Linked DNA regions of Homo sapiens: all the other regions are reported to be linked to region 1. The links are microRNA targets in miRTarBase. Many come from high-throughput screens and were not tested one by one. Region 1 holds a microRNA gene; each other region holds the end of a gene's coding sequence.

Region 1 (4,151 bases):
GGTGACCTAAGAGACAGAGAAATGCCAGTTCCTGTAATCAGCAGGTGCTTCATAAATGCTCAGGCTCCAGCTGTCCTAAGGTTCTCTATACCCAGCTTATGGAGGTTACAAGTGAGTTCCCATAGATACGGGCTCAGGTTGGGAGGGGGCGGGGAGGAAGATCCCGAGGCCACCACCCCAGGGGCTTCTAATGGACCTCCAGGCTGGGCCAGGGGTCTGTGAGAAGCTCCCACACCATCTTTTGGACTCCTCTGACTTAGATACTTGGTCTGGAAGGACAGGGTGTCTTAGGAAATCTTAGCACCCACTGCCCACCACCAAACCAGTCCCACCACCTTCCCCAGACAGCCGCTCCCCCTGGCTGCTGGAACTCCTGCCACCTGCTCTTGCTGTCCCCACCCCCAACCAACACATTTTACTCAAGTAAACCAACTGATCTGTCTAAAAGAGGAATCAGCAGATGGTTTCTGGAAAGGGGCAGATAGTGAATATCTTTGGCTCTGTGGGCCATACGGTCTCTGTCACACCTACTCAACTCTGCCATTGTAGTGAGAAAGCGGCATTGACAATATGTAACCAAATGAGCAAGGCTGAGTTCAATAAAACTGTTTGCAAAAACAGACAACTGGCTGGATTTGGCCCATGGGCCACCGTTTGCAGACCCCTGATCTATATTATAAAGTGGGCCCGGTGTTCATTGGTTGCAAGTCCTCAAGAGGCTCCGCATACCCTCAGAACAGAGTTCCTTTTCTAACCTTAGTCCTGGGCACCTAAGACATTGCCCCAGGGTCCTCTCCAGCCTCAACTCCCACCACTCTCACCCTCTCACGCAGCACTTTGGCAGTGTTGAGTGTTAAACTCGCCAAGTTACCGTAAATCCCTGACTTCGCACATGCTGTTCCCTATGCCTGGAATGCATCTGCCTTGACTTGTCCCCTTATCAGACTCCTACTCGACTCAAGTGCACCTCCTCCAGGAGGAATTCCTTGACTTCCCCAGGCTGGTGCCTGGCAGGTTCTGCTCTGTTTGGGCAGGGGTGGCTGTGGATGGTGAATAACCAAAGAAGCAAACTTACTCGTTCTCCATCAGACCCTGGCAGGCCGAAGAGCCCTGGGAGCCCAATGTAGCCCTAGGAAAGAGAAGAAAGGGGGTCAGAGCGGTCAAGCAGTGAGGTGTGGCTGGCCCAACCTGCCGCAGCCCACCCACCACTGCCATCCCACATCCCGGCTCCTCCTCTTCCTCCCTGGTGGCAGTGGCAGCTCCGGTGGCTCCTCGATGACATAGGCCTTGAGGCAAGTGTATATGCCCATGGACTGCATGGTGCTGGCTTCCACGATGTAGTCCAAAGGCACATACCCTCACGCCAGGGAAGGGCGCAGGCGCTCGCCGGCAGGAGGCCCGCCCCACGCCAGGGCTCCAGGACCTGCAGAAGGAAGCTCGCGGCTGGGTTAGATGCTAGCACGGCACCAAGCCCTGCCCACCCCCAGGGATGCTGGTAGGTGCCCGTGGCTCCTGCCATGGCTCCTCCTAGGCCTTCAAGGTCCTGGATGTAGGGCTTACATCCACCTCTGGCCGCCTGAGTGCTGGCATTAACTAACAGCGGCTGCGAACCCGGAGTGCCAACATTGTGCCAGGCACATGCATGCTACCACATTAGACTCTCACAAGGACCCCCCAGATTGTCACCACCCACACTGGACAGACAAAGAAACTGAGGCTCTGTAGATAAAGCAACACGACTAGTCAGTAGTGGAGCTGTGAATTCTCTTCGGGAATTCCTAATCAGTTCAAGGGTCACCCAGGGCCAGCTGACTCCACAGCTGGGGCTCGTCACCATTCTGGGGCTCTTCCCTAGGATGCATCTCATTTCCTCCCTCCCAGCCTTTCCTCACTCTGTCCCCTCCACCAGGCATGTCCTTCCCATCCCTCATGACTTCTGAGCCAAATCCTTCAAAGCCCAGCTCTCATAAGCGCTCTCCTTGGGCAAGCATCCCTGATACCCCAAGCCGGAAGCAATCTCTCCCCCCCATCCCCAGTGCCATTTTTGCACCTCGGTAGCATCCTTCTCCACTTTCTCCCTTGTATCTTCATTATTTGTGTTCATGCTTCACGTCCTCATTAGCCTGGGAACTTCTAAAGGGCAGTAACCTCGCCCGGGGCTTCTACCACTATCTGCGTGCCACTCTTGGTGGAATGATTTAATAATAACTCTAACAAAAGCTAATGTTTATTGAGCACGAATGATAGGCCAGGCCTGCTGCCAGTGCTTTGCATATATTAAAGCATTTATTCCATCCTTATCACACCCCGAGGAAGTATTATATTTTATTATTTTTTTATTTATATATATTTTTTGAGACGGAGTCTTGCTCTGTCATCCAGGCTGGAGTGCAGTGGTGCGATCGTGGCTTACTGCAACCTCTGCTTACCGGGTTCAAGCGATTCTCCTGCCTCAGTCTCCTGAATAGCTGATCACAGGTGATCACAGGTGTGCACCACCACGCCCAGCTAATTTTTGTAGTTACTTTAGTAGAGACGGGGTTTCGCTATGTTGACCAGGCTGGTCTCGAACTCCTGGCCTCAGGTGATCCACCCGCCTTGGCCTCCCAAAATGCTGGGATTACAGGCACGAGCCACCGCGCCCAGCCCTGAGGAAGTATTATTACTCAGCCCCCTGTAGAGGTAAGACCATTTAGGCCCAGAGGGGTGAAGCAACTTGCCTAGGACCAAACAGCTGAAATGTGGTAGAACTGGTATTCAAATTCAAGTCTTCTGACTCCTGGGCCTGGGCTCCTAACCACTCTGCATACTGCCTCTCCTCAAACAAGCAACCAATGGAGGCTCACAACCATCTCTCCTTCCCTGGAAGGCCAAGAAGCCACTGAGCCTCCTCGTTGGCATCCAGCATGATTAATATCCATAATCTGAAAGAGTGCCATTTACTGCCATTCCAAATAGTGCTTATCTCCCAGATTTACAGGTGAGAAAATAATTGGCTCAGAGAGGCCCAGTGACTTGCCCAAGCTCCCACAGCTAGCTAATGGCAGGGCAGGTCTCAAAGCCTGTCATCCTGATTCCAAAGCCTGCCCTCTGCCTACTTCAGAAATATGAGGCTGGTGGTGGCAGGGTTGGAAGGGCAGCTTGAGTGACTCACTGCTCATCCAGGCTTCCCACCCAGGGCTGTGTGGCCTGTAAGAGACAGGAGTGCTGGGGCCAGACCAGTCCTCTCCTGCTATGTGACTTTGAGATGCCACCAGCCTGGCAGGCAAGTCGAGCAACCCCAGATGTCATTAACATGCCTGTCCTTCTGGCAGGTCAGGAGATCAGGACTGGGGCTGGACTGAGAAGACCTTTCTCCTTGGGTTTAGGGGGTCCCTCTGGGGGAATGGCCCATGGGAGCAGCAGAATAAAGGAAGAGAGGCACAGCACCCTGGGACAAGAGCCTCCTTAGGCCCTGCCTGTCACAGTAACCTCCTGGGGAATGCACCTCCCCGCCCCCACTCCCGCCTCCCCACACTCTCCTAACAGCCACCAGTCAGCTGCAGGGATTAGGGCTGAGACTGCAACTGTTCTGTCCTCTCCCTCCTGCCAAAATATAAATAGCTTTGGCTCAGGAGCAAAGGATACGTGATCTGTCCTGACCGAGGACTGTGTGACCCCCTTCCTGAGCATTCCTTGAGAGGCAGCAAGTCCAGGCCTCGGAAGACTTGGGTCCCCATCCCAGATCCGCCTTAGGCGTGCAGTGTAAGCTGGGGCCATCCAGGCCCCGCCATGAACCCAGTTTCTTTGTGTGTAAAAGAAACGATTCCACCACATCAGCTCTAAATCTTTCCAACTCCATTTACCCCATTCGGTCCACCCAGAACCCTCTCTGTCTTCCCACAACCCACATGGGAGTCCCCACCTGGTGGCCCCCTCCTGAGCTGTCAAGTCAGCTTGACATAACCAGACTAGAGGTACAAATGGACATCATGACCATTGTAGAGGTAGGCAACTGAGGCTGATCGCTACTCGGGGTCTGCTCCATGGGGGCCTTGAAGGAAGGGGAGATCTGGAAACTCCACCAGGCTGCAGGCTTGGGCAGCATTCCCACACCAGGTGCCCTCCACAAAGAGTGGTTCCCCCCAGCCCTCATTTGGGAGCAGGAGGGA
Region 2 (4,000 bases), not on the chromosome of region 1:
CCTGGCTGATCTTGCCAAAGTTCCCTGTCTCTCACACACACAGGCCTCCTGTACCTTAAGTAATATGAACTTCTAACTAAGCCAACACAGTTGGCTCAGCAACCAGATGAGTGTTCAACTGCTCACTAACATACAGTAAACTCAACTCAATTTCTCCCAGAAATTGAAAAAGATGCTGTATTTTTCTAAAAGCACCATCTAGTGGCCAAAACTCATAGCATTATTTGATAACAGGTATAGGAGACATTCTCCTCAACATAAAGACTGAAAGAATTTTCGAGGCTTTAGAAGTAACATTTACATGTTAGACAAAACTTCATGATGTCAAATAGAAAGGGTAAACGTTTGAGATGAGTTAGAAGTTGAACCCTGTTAAACTGGGGATGCATTCTGCCAGGTTGGTTGTGAGAACCTGTGACATAGTATCTTCGCTTTCCAGTTGAAAATGTGCAAACTACTTTAGATAAAGATAAGCTCCTCATCATGTTGGCTGTACATCAGTAGCTTAACCACATTTTCTTCTCAAGTGAAAAGCCACCATGCTGCTTTGGGCACTAATGCTCAAGCATAACTTGCTTCAGGAAATCTAGGAGTAAATTTAATAGCTTGAAAATTCAGGTTTGTAAAGAGCACAGAGGACACACACAAGTGGCTGACTCTAATAACACAGGAGAAAATACATAGTATTTCTTGGGGGCACAAACACCAGTGTCTTAATTCTCTCAAGAACATAGGTTCAGATTCTCTTCAACTTGGCTGAGTGAAGAGCTACATTCTACCTTCCTTCACAGCCAAAGGTAGCATCAGGAACATTTATGACAAACTGGTCATATTTGACCTTTTACTGACATTTGGGAGCATTCTGCGTTCCCAGCTTTCCCTTCTCCCTCCAAACTAATACATCGTCTATCTGTAGAGAAAACTTATAGTTCTCTATATAACTAACTTTATATTCATCTCGTAGAGAATGAAGAAGTAAAATATTTAGCTTCCAGTCTGATCTTCAAGGGCTAGAACATGTTTAGGTTTTTTTTTTTTTTTTTTTTTTTTTGGTTGAATGGAGGATTAGAGAATAACTACTATCCCCATCAAGTATATTCCCTTGCCTTTCCAGAGGCTTCACGGAGCGACAGGTTTTTTAACCACCAGGAGGCACAAGACAATTATGATGCAGAGTGCTCAAGTTTCTGGATCTTGAGTTTGTGATGTGATGCCAAAGTTTAACACAAGTAACTTGGGACAGGCTGAGAATAGTTTCAGGTAAAAGGAACTAATTGAACAGCAGGAACTTTTTTTTTTTTTTTTTTTTTTTGATAGTCTTCCTCTGTTGCCCAGGCTGGAGTGCAATGGCACGATCTCGGCTCACCGCCTCCTGGGTTCAAGCGATTCTCCTGCCTCAACATCCCGAGTAGCTGGGATTACACACCTGGTTAATTTTTGTATTTTTTAGTAGAGATGGGGTTTCAGCATGTTGGTCAGGCTGGTCTTGAACTCCTGACCTCGTGATCCGCCTGCCTCAGCCTCCCAAAGTGCTGGGATTACATGCGTGAGCCACCGCACCCGACCGGAACATTCTTAATGAAAAGTTCTACACTGTTCAAGAATACTAGGCTCTTTCTGTCACAAGCCACAGTTCTCTAAGGGCCCACAGTAAGTTGTGAGGAAGTGGGCTCAGTCCTCTGAAATGGTGGCCAAGGTTTAACAGTGCTTTTGAGGGCCAGGTCTCCAAAACTATCACTGAACTGAACGATGGGTTAAATAAGCTCTGAGGCATGAGGGCTAGCAGCCCACTATCCCACTTGATTCGGTGTCCCATGAGAAGAATGCTGTGTTCCAAACTAACTTACCAGCAATTTGTAAATGTTGAAAACCTTAAGACTGAAAAGTGAAAATCCTATTGTCCTCTAACATTCTGCTCAATTTGCAGCTACTGGACTACAAATGAAATACTGACTCTAAACTCAGTTTTATCCCTAGCTGTCTACATAACACAACTATGTCCTCATCTGTTAAATAGGAGGAAGTTTCATAGTATCTGTATCATTTTACAGATACTATGAACATATGCAGTTGTAAACTTCTTAGAGCTCCTACAATTCAGATGAATTAAACAGATGAAGATCAGGATGAGAAATTTTTAAAATGTCTATCTGTGAAGCCAATCCTTTGCTATCTTCCCTCCCACTCCCTTTACTGACATGTGAGTAAATGCTTCCCATTTAATTGGATTTTAAGGTCATAAAACAGGTAAGTCAACCCTACCACAAGAATTTTTTACAAATCAGATGATGACCTGAAAATACTCTTGTTCTGCTAAATCTGAACATTACAAAATGGCTAAAAATGACATTTTAAAGATAGGGGTCTGAGCCTACTCTCACAAGCAGTCACATTAAGATGTAAATTTACTATTTGGAGGATTCACAGTGCACCAGTGAAAAAATATCACGAAAGAAAAATTCTTATGTCTAAAACCTATATCCCTCGATCACATTCAGATCCTCTTCATGTTTTATTTTCAGTAAGTGTATTCTTGGTCTTTCTATTGTTTTCTCTAGTTGAAATAGCAGTGCCTAGCCAATCAGGAACCTGTACCTCTTCACAACCAGAAAAAAGTCACAAAAACAAAAGTTAAGGACAACTTTTTATTGCTACCAGAGGCTTTTATCATCAGTACACAGTTCTGACTGCAATACCTTTTTCAGACTGCAAAGGGAGCTCAGGATCCAGAAGTCATTAAAAGAAACATAAGGCTGGGGAGGCAGGGGGAGTAAGTTCTATTAGAAAATCCTAATAGCTTAACAAAACTAGGGTACTAAATTCAGTTATAACATGTTACAGACTTAAATCATAGAGCTGCCCCAACATCTAGACAGTCTCTCCTACTGATTATAAATGAGTGAAAACTATCAGTTAGAAAAATCTAATTTAAGTTGTTAATACATGTTTCTTTGGTGAGCACCTGGATATATTTATCACAAATTCTTTTATACAAATGTCGAAAATGCTTTCAACAAACCTAAGTGTCCTAATTACATGCCACTTTTAAGCATCACTTTAAGGTAAACAAAAATGAAAACCATAATTTTAAATTAAAATTTGAAATGAGACACAAAATCAACCTGGTAATATGAGAACTTTTTCTTTTGCCATCTCTGATTAATATGGGACAATTCCAAAGTACCCTTTTCAGACTAATTGGAACTTGAGTCATGGCTGTCACACTGAAATAATTTGTTCATTCAACTGCAGTGAAAATCAATATAGATCAACATGCATAAAGTTCAGTAACTATTAAATGGAGAAGCAAGCAAAAGCAACAGGAAAATTAAATCAGGATGCTGAGGGGGAACAGGATTGCTGGCCATGAATTTTAATTGAATTTTTGACGGGGCAAGCTACGTTACATTATGGCAGAAAAAAAGTGCAACTGACATACTACAAAGAGATTTTTTAAGTTTAAAAAAAGTTTGGATCTTTTGGATTTCTTTTTTTTTTTTTTGGTCTTTATGTGCTTAAATAACGCTGAATTATAATTAGCCACACAAATAATGAGAGTTTTATTTTTTTTTTCTGGCTCACTCCAAATCAGCCTGTTAAGGTATATTTCCTTCTACAGCCTTTCCTGATTTTGCATGTTCTCATTCCCAAAGTAGTCTACCTTAGTTTACACTCAAAGGTAGCACTTGTTGAAACTACATGACAGAAACAGGCTGCAAAGGTGGACAAGGGGAAGCATGTCCCTCTTGTCTTGATAAATCAGTGCCACACACAGAACCCACATTTTCTGAGACATTATCTTCATTATAGAGCCGTTTGATTCCATCATAGAAGTCATCCACTTCCATTTCCTCTACTTTGCGTTTAGTAGAGGTCTGCTTGCACCCACTGGCAGCTGGGAGATGATGGTAAAAGGCTGCTGTACCTCTGACTGGCACTTCTGGCTTGCTGTTGTCCTTGGAGAAGTCTGGGCCTGGGACAGAGGAGGGATGTAATCTGA
Region 3 (4,000 bases), not on the chromosome of region 1:
AGGCAGGTAGGCTAGGGGGTGCCTATTGGAGGAGGAGTGACCCTTGACCTGTAGGGCTTGACCTGTTTCTCTTTCCTGTGCAGCCATTGACCTCATCAACAACCTGCTGCAGGTGAAGATGCGCAAACGCTACAGCGTGGACAAATCTCTCAGCCACCCCTGGTTACAGGTGATGCAGGGGGCAGGGCTGGCCCATTGGCTGGATTGGAGGAAGGGGTGGGAGTAGATCGCTTATTGGCTAGGCAGGTTGTGAAGGATGTAGGTTTCCTTGGGTCTGGAATGTGGCTAGGCCTCCCATTGGCTGGGTGCAGGAAGAGGGGGTGGAGCTAAATGTCTACTGGCTGGGTGGGTTGCAGAGGGTATGGCTTCACCTTCATTGGTACCCAGCTCTCAGTGGCAAACCAGAGGATATCCAGGCACTGCTCCAATGCAGACCCCAAGCTAACCCCAGTTCTCTCGGGCCCAGGAGTACCAGACGTGGCTGGACCTCCGAGAGCTGGAGGGGAAGATGGGAGAGCGATACATCACGCATGAGAGTGACGACGCGCGCTGGGAGCAGTTTGCAGCAGAGCATCCGCTGCCTGGGTCTGGGCTGCCCACGGACAGGGATCTCGGTGGGGCCTGTCCACCACAGGACCACGACATGCAGGGGCTGGCGGAGCGCATCAGTGTTCTCTGAGGTCCTGTGCCCTCGTCCAGCTGCTGCCCTCCACAGCGGTTCTTCACAGGATCCCAGCAATGAACTGTTCTAGGGAAAGTGGCTTCCTGCCCAAACTGGATGGGACACGTGGGGAGTGGGGTGGGGGGAGCTATTTCCAAGGCCCCTCCCTGTTTCCCCAGCAATTAAAACGGACTCATCTCTGGCCCCATGGCCTTGATCTCAGCACACGGCACTCTCGAATCATTACTCTGTTGTACCAACATGGAGTTCATCTGGAAGGAGGACTGCCTGAAAAGAGGAAGGATGGAAGGGGTGGGGAGAGAGGACTGATGGGAGAGGAGTCTTGGAAGGAGGACGAGCTGGGGTAGAAAATATACAGGAAGAGTGCCAGGAGAGAAGATGAGAAGGGAGAGGGAGGAGTAATGGAGGAGGAGTTGGAAACTGGGGAGAGATGGAAGGAATGTGACTGGAGGGTAGAGAACTTGGAGAAAAAGTAATCTCATGGTTTGTGATGACTGATTTTTTATTTGGTGGTGGTGTTACTACTAATCACAACTATTAATTCAGGCTGGGTGTGGTGGCTCATGCCTATAATCCCAGCAATTTGGGAGGCCGAGGCAGGCAGATCCCTTAGATCTCAGGAGTTTGAGAGCAGCCTGGCCAACGTGGTGAAACTCCCTTTCTACAAAAAGTTCAAAAATTAGCCAAGTGTGGTGGCTTGCACCTGTGGTCCCAGCTACTTGGAGGTTGAGGCTAGAGGATCGCTTGAGCCCAGGAAGCAGAGATTGCAGTGAGCCAAGATCACACACCACTGCACTCTAGCCTGGGCAAGAGAGTGAGACCCTGTCTCAAAAGTCAAATAATAAAATGCAGTTAGCCCAAGTCTGATCCATACTAGAAAACTGATACGTAACATTCAGTATTTTATTTTATGTTGATGTGATGACTTCTCTATCTATGAAATAGAGAAGTATATATTCACTCATTCCTTTGTGTCACTGAGCTGGGTGATGCTGGGGACACAGTGGTGACTGAGACAGCCAAGGACTGCCCTGCCAGTAGAGAGACATACCTGCCCCTGGACAGTGATGACCCAGAACGGGAAGGGCTGGACTGGGGGAGTTTGGGAGGCTTGGGCAGCCTAGAATGAGCTCAGGGGTCAGAGAGAGTGGGGAATCAGAGGTGACCTCTTAGGCTTCATCTTGGCCTTGAAAGACTGAAGGCAGAGGGAATGAACTGGAGGGAACACGTATCCACCTCTCTCTACCTTTGACTCCAGCCCTCCACCTCCCCAGTTCTCCAGTAACACCCTAACACATGGTCCTCCACCTTCCACAGCTGAAGGTGAACGATCCGAGCATGGACCTGAACAAGTTTTCTTCAGACTTTCAGAACGCTCTGACTTACGTGCTGCAAAGACCTATCTGAAAGCTGGGCATGGTGGCGGGTGACTGTATTCCCAGCTACTTAAGCGGCTGAGGTGGGAGGATCGCTGGAGTCCAGGAGTTCGAGTCCAGTTTGGGCAACACAGCCTTAAAAAACCCAGGAAAACAGGAAAGAATTTAGTAGCCAATTTAGGCTAATACTGGGAGCTTACTCTGGGATTTTCCAATTTGATTTGTATCACCTTGTCCATCTGATGGTTCCAGAGCTGCAGCTTTTTTTTTTTTTCCTGAGGCAGGGTCTCTGTTTCCCAGGCTGGAGTGCAGTGGCATGAACACAGCTCACTGCAGCCTTGACCTTCTGGGCTCAAGTGATCCTCCCACCTCAGCCTCCTGAGTAGCTAGAACTACAGGCACATGCCACCATGCCCAGCTAATTTTTTGGATTTTTTGCAGAGGTTTTACCATGTTGCCCAGGCTGGTCTCAAACTCCTGGGCTCAAGCGATCTGCCTGCCTAGGCCTCCCAAAGTGCTGGGATTACATGCATGAGCCACTGCGCCTGGCCAAAATGCAGCTCTTTGATTTGAAAATGCTAAACGAGCCTCAGTAAATGAAGGTATCCAAAGGAGCAGTATACCTCTGAGGCATAGTTGCTAAGACTATTGGGGAAAGGCTCTTAGACTCCATCCCCAGTGCCTATCCCTCTGTTTAGTCTAAGGTCCAGAAGTGTAGGCAACATAGAGATGAATCCATCTCCCGTGACAGACCCAGGCTAGAAAATGTATGGAAAAGACTATCACCCCTGATCTGCTTCTGTCTTGGCCACTAGTTAATATCCAGAGACCAGAAATGAGAGACGTGATTCAAAAACATTCCTCAATTATAGAATTCCAGGAGATAGTGTATATCATGAGGATGCCATGAAAGATAAAATCAAGGCCGGGCGCAGTGGCTCACGCCTGTAATCTCAGCACTTTGAGTGCTGAGGTGGGTGGATCATCTGAGGTCAGGAGTTTGAGACCAGCCTGATCAACATGGAGAAACCCCGTCTCTACTAAAAATACAAAATTAGCCGGGCATGGTGGCACATGCCTGTAATCCCAGCTACTCGGGAGGTTGAGGCAGGAGAATCGCTTGAATCTGGGAGGCGGAGGTTGCGGTGAGCTGAGATCGTGCCACTGCACTCCAGCCTGGGCAACAAGAGCGAAACTCTGTCTCAAAAAAAAAAAAAAAAATCAAATCCATACAATGAAAACTTAGGGCCCTATAACTTAAATCATTAGAGACAAAAAGTTTATCCTATCAGGACCACTGGAATCACAAAACCTAATTTTGTTTGTTAGAGACAGGGTCTTGCTCTATCACCCAGGCTTCTGTGCAGTGGTATGATCGTAGCTCACTGCAGCCTCAAACTACAGGGTTCAAGCCATCCTCCCCCTCAGCCTCTTGAGTAGCTGGGACTACAGGCATGAGCCACCACACCTCGCTAATTTTTTGTTTTTTATGTAGTTTTTAATTTTTTTATTATTTTATTATTTTTTGAGATGGAATCTTGCTCTGTTGCCCAGGCCAAAGTGCAGTGGCATGATCACAGCTCACTGCAGCCTCAACCTCCTGGGCTCAAGTGATCTTCCCACCTCAGCCTCCCAAGTAGCTAAGACTACAGGCACATGCCACCACGCCCAGCTAATTTTTGTATTTTTAGTAGAGAAGGGGTTTTGCCATGTTGGCCAGGCTGGTCTCGAACTCCTGACCTCAAGTGATCTGCCCACCTCGGCCTCCCAAAGTGCTGGGATTACAGGCATGAACCACCGTGCCCGGGCATGTTTTTTATTTGTTATAGAGATGGGGTCTCACTATGTTGCCGAGGCTGGTCTTGAACTCCTGGGGTTGAACGATCCTCCACCTCTCAAAAGTGCTGGGATTACAGGTGTGGGCCACTGCACTCAACCTCAA

Evidence for each region. Region 1 holds the annotated microRNA hsa-miR-455-5p (UAUGUGCCUUUGGACUACAUCG, at 1,334-1,355, opposite strand). A microRNA usually pairs through its seed, bases 2 to 8, with sites in the 3' UTR of a target mRNA and lowers its output. Matches are read on the target gene's strand: a 7mer-m8 pairs with bases 2 to 8, a 7mer-A1 pairs with bases 2 to 7 and ends in A, and an 8mer does both.
Region 2: the mRNA of CCNI is a reported target of hsa-miR-455-5p. Seed matches in the 3' UTR shown: 7mer-A1 at 3,509-3,515.
Region 3: miRTarBase lists PRKD2 as a target of hsa-miR-455-5p. The part of its 3' UTR that is shown has no 7-base or 8-base seed match.

The regions. Positions count from the first base shown.
Region 1 is chr9:114,206,653-114,210,803 of GRCh38, reverse strand. MIR455 (microRNA 455) reads right to left here and starts at 1,370; the gene lies at 1,275-1,370. COL27A1 (collagen type XXVII alpha 1 chain) reads right to left here. Exons shown (of 61, transcript NM_032888.4): 11 at 1,076-1,129.
Region 2 is chr4:77,044,524-77,048,523 of GRCh38, forward strand. It overlaps CCNI (cyclin I), which reads right to left. Exons shown (of 7, transcript NM_006835.3): 7 at 2,632-4,000. The coding sequence ends at 3,696. Among named protein-coding and RNA genes, the nearest start is that of CCNI, 29 kb to the right of the region's middle.
Region 3 is chr19:46,671,202-46,675,201 of GRCh38, reverse strand. PRKD2 (protein kinase D2) reads left to right here. Exons shown (of 18, transcript NM_016457.5): 17 at 84-169; 18 at 467-886. The coding sequence ends at 679. The region is part of intron 2 of DACT3-AS1 (DACT3 antisense RNA 1); the gene reads right to left. Among named protein-coding and RNA genes, the nearest start is that of DACT3, 12 kb to the right of the region's middle.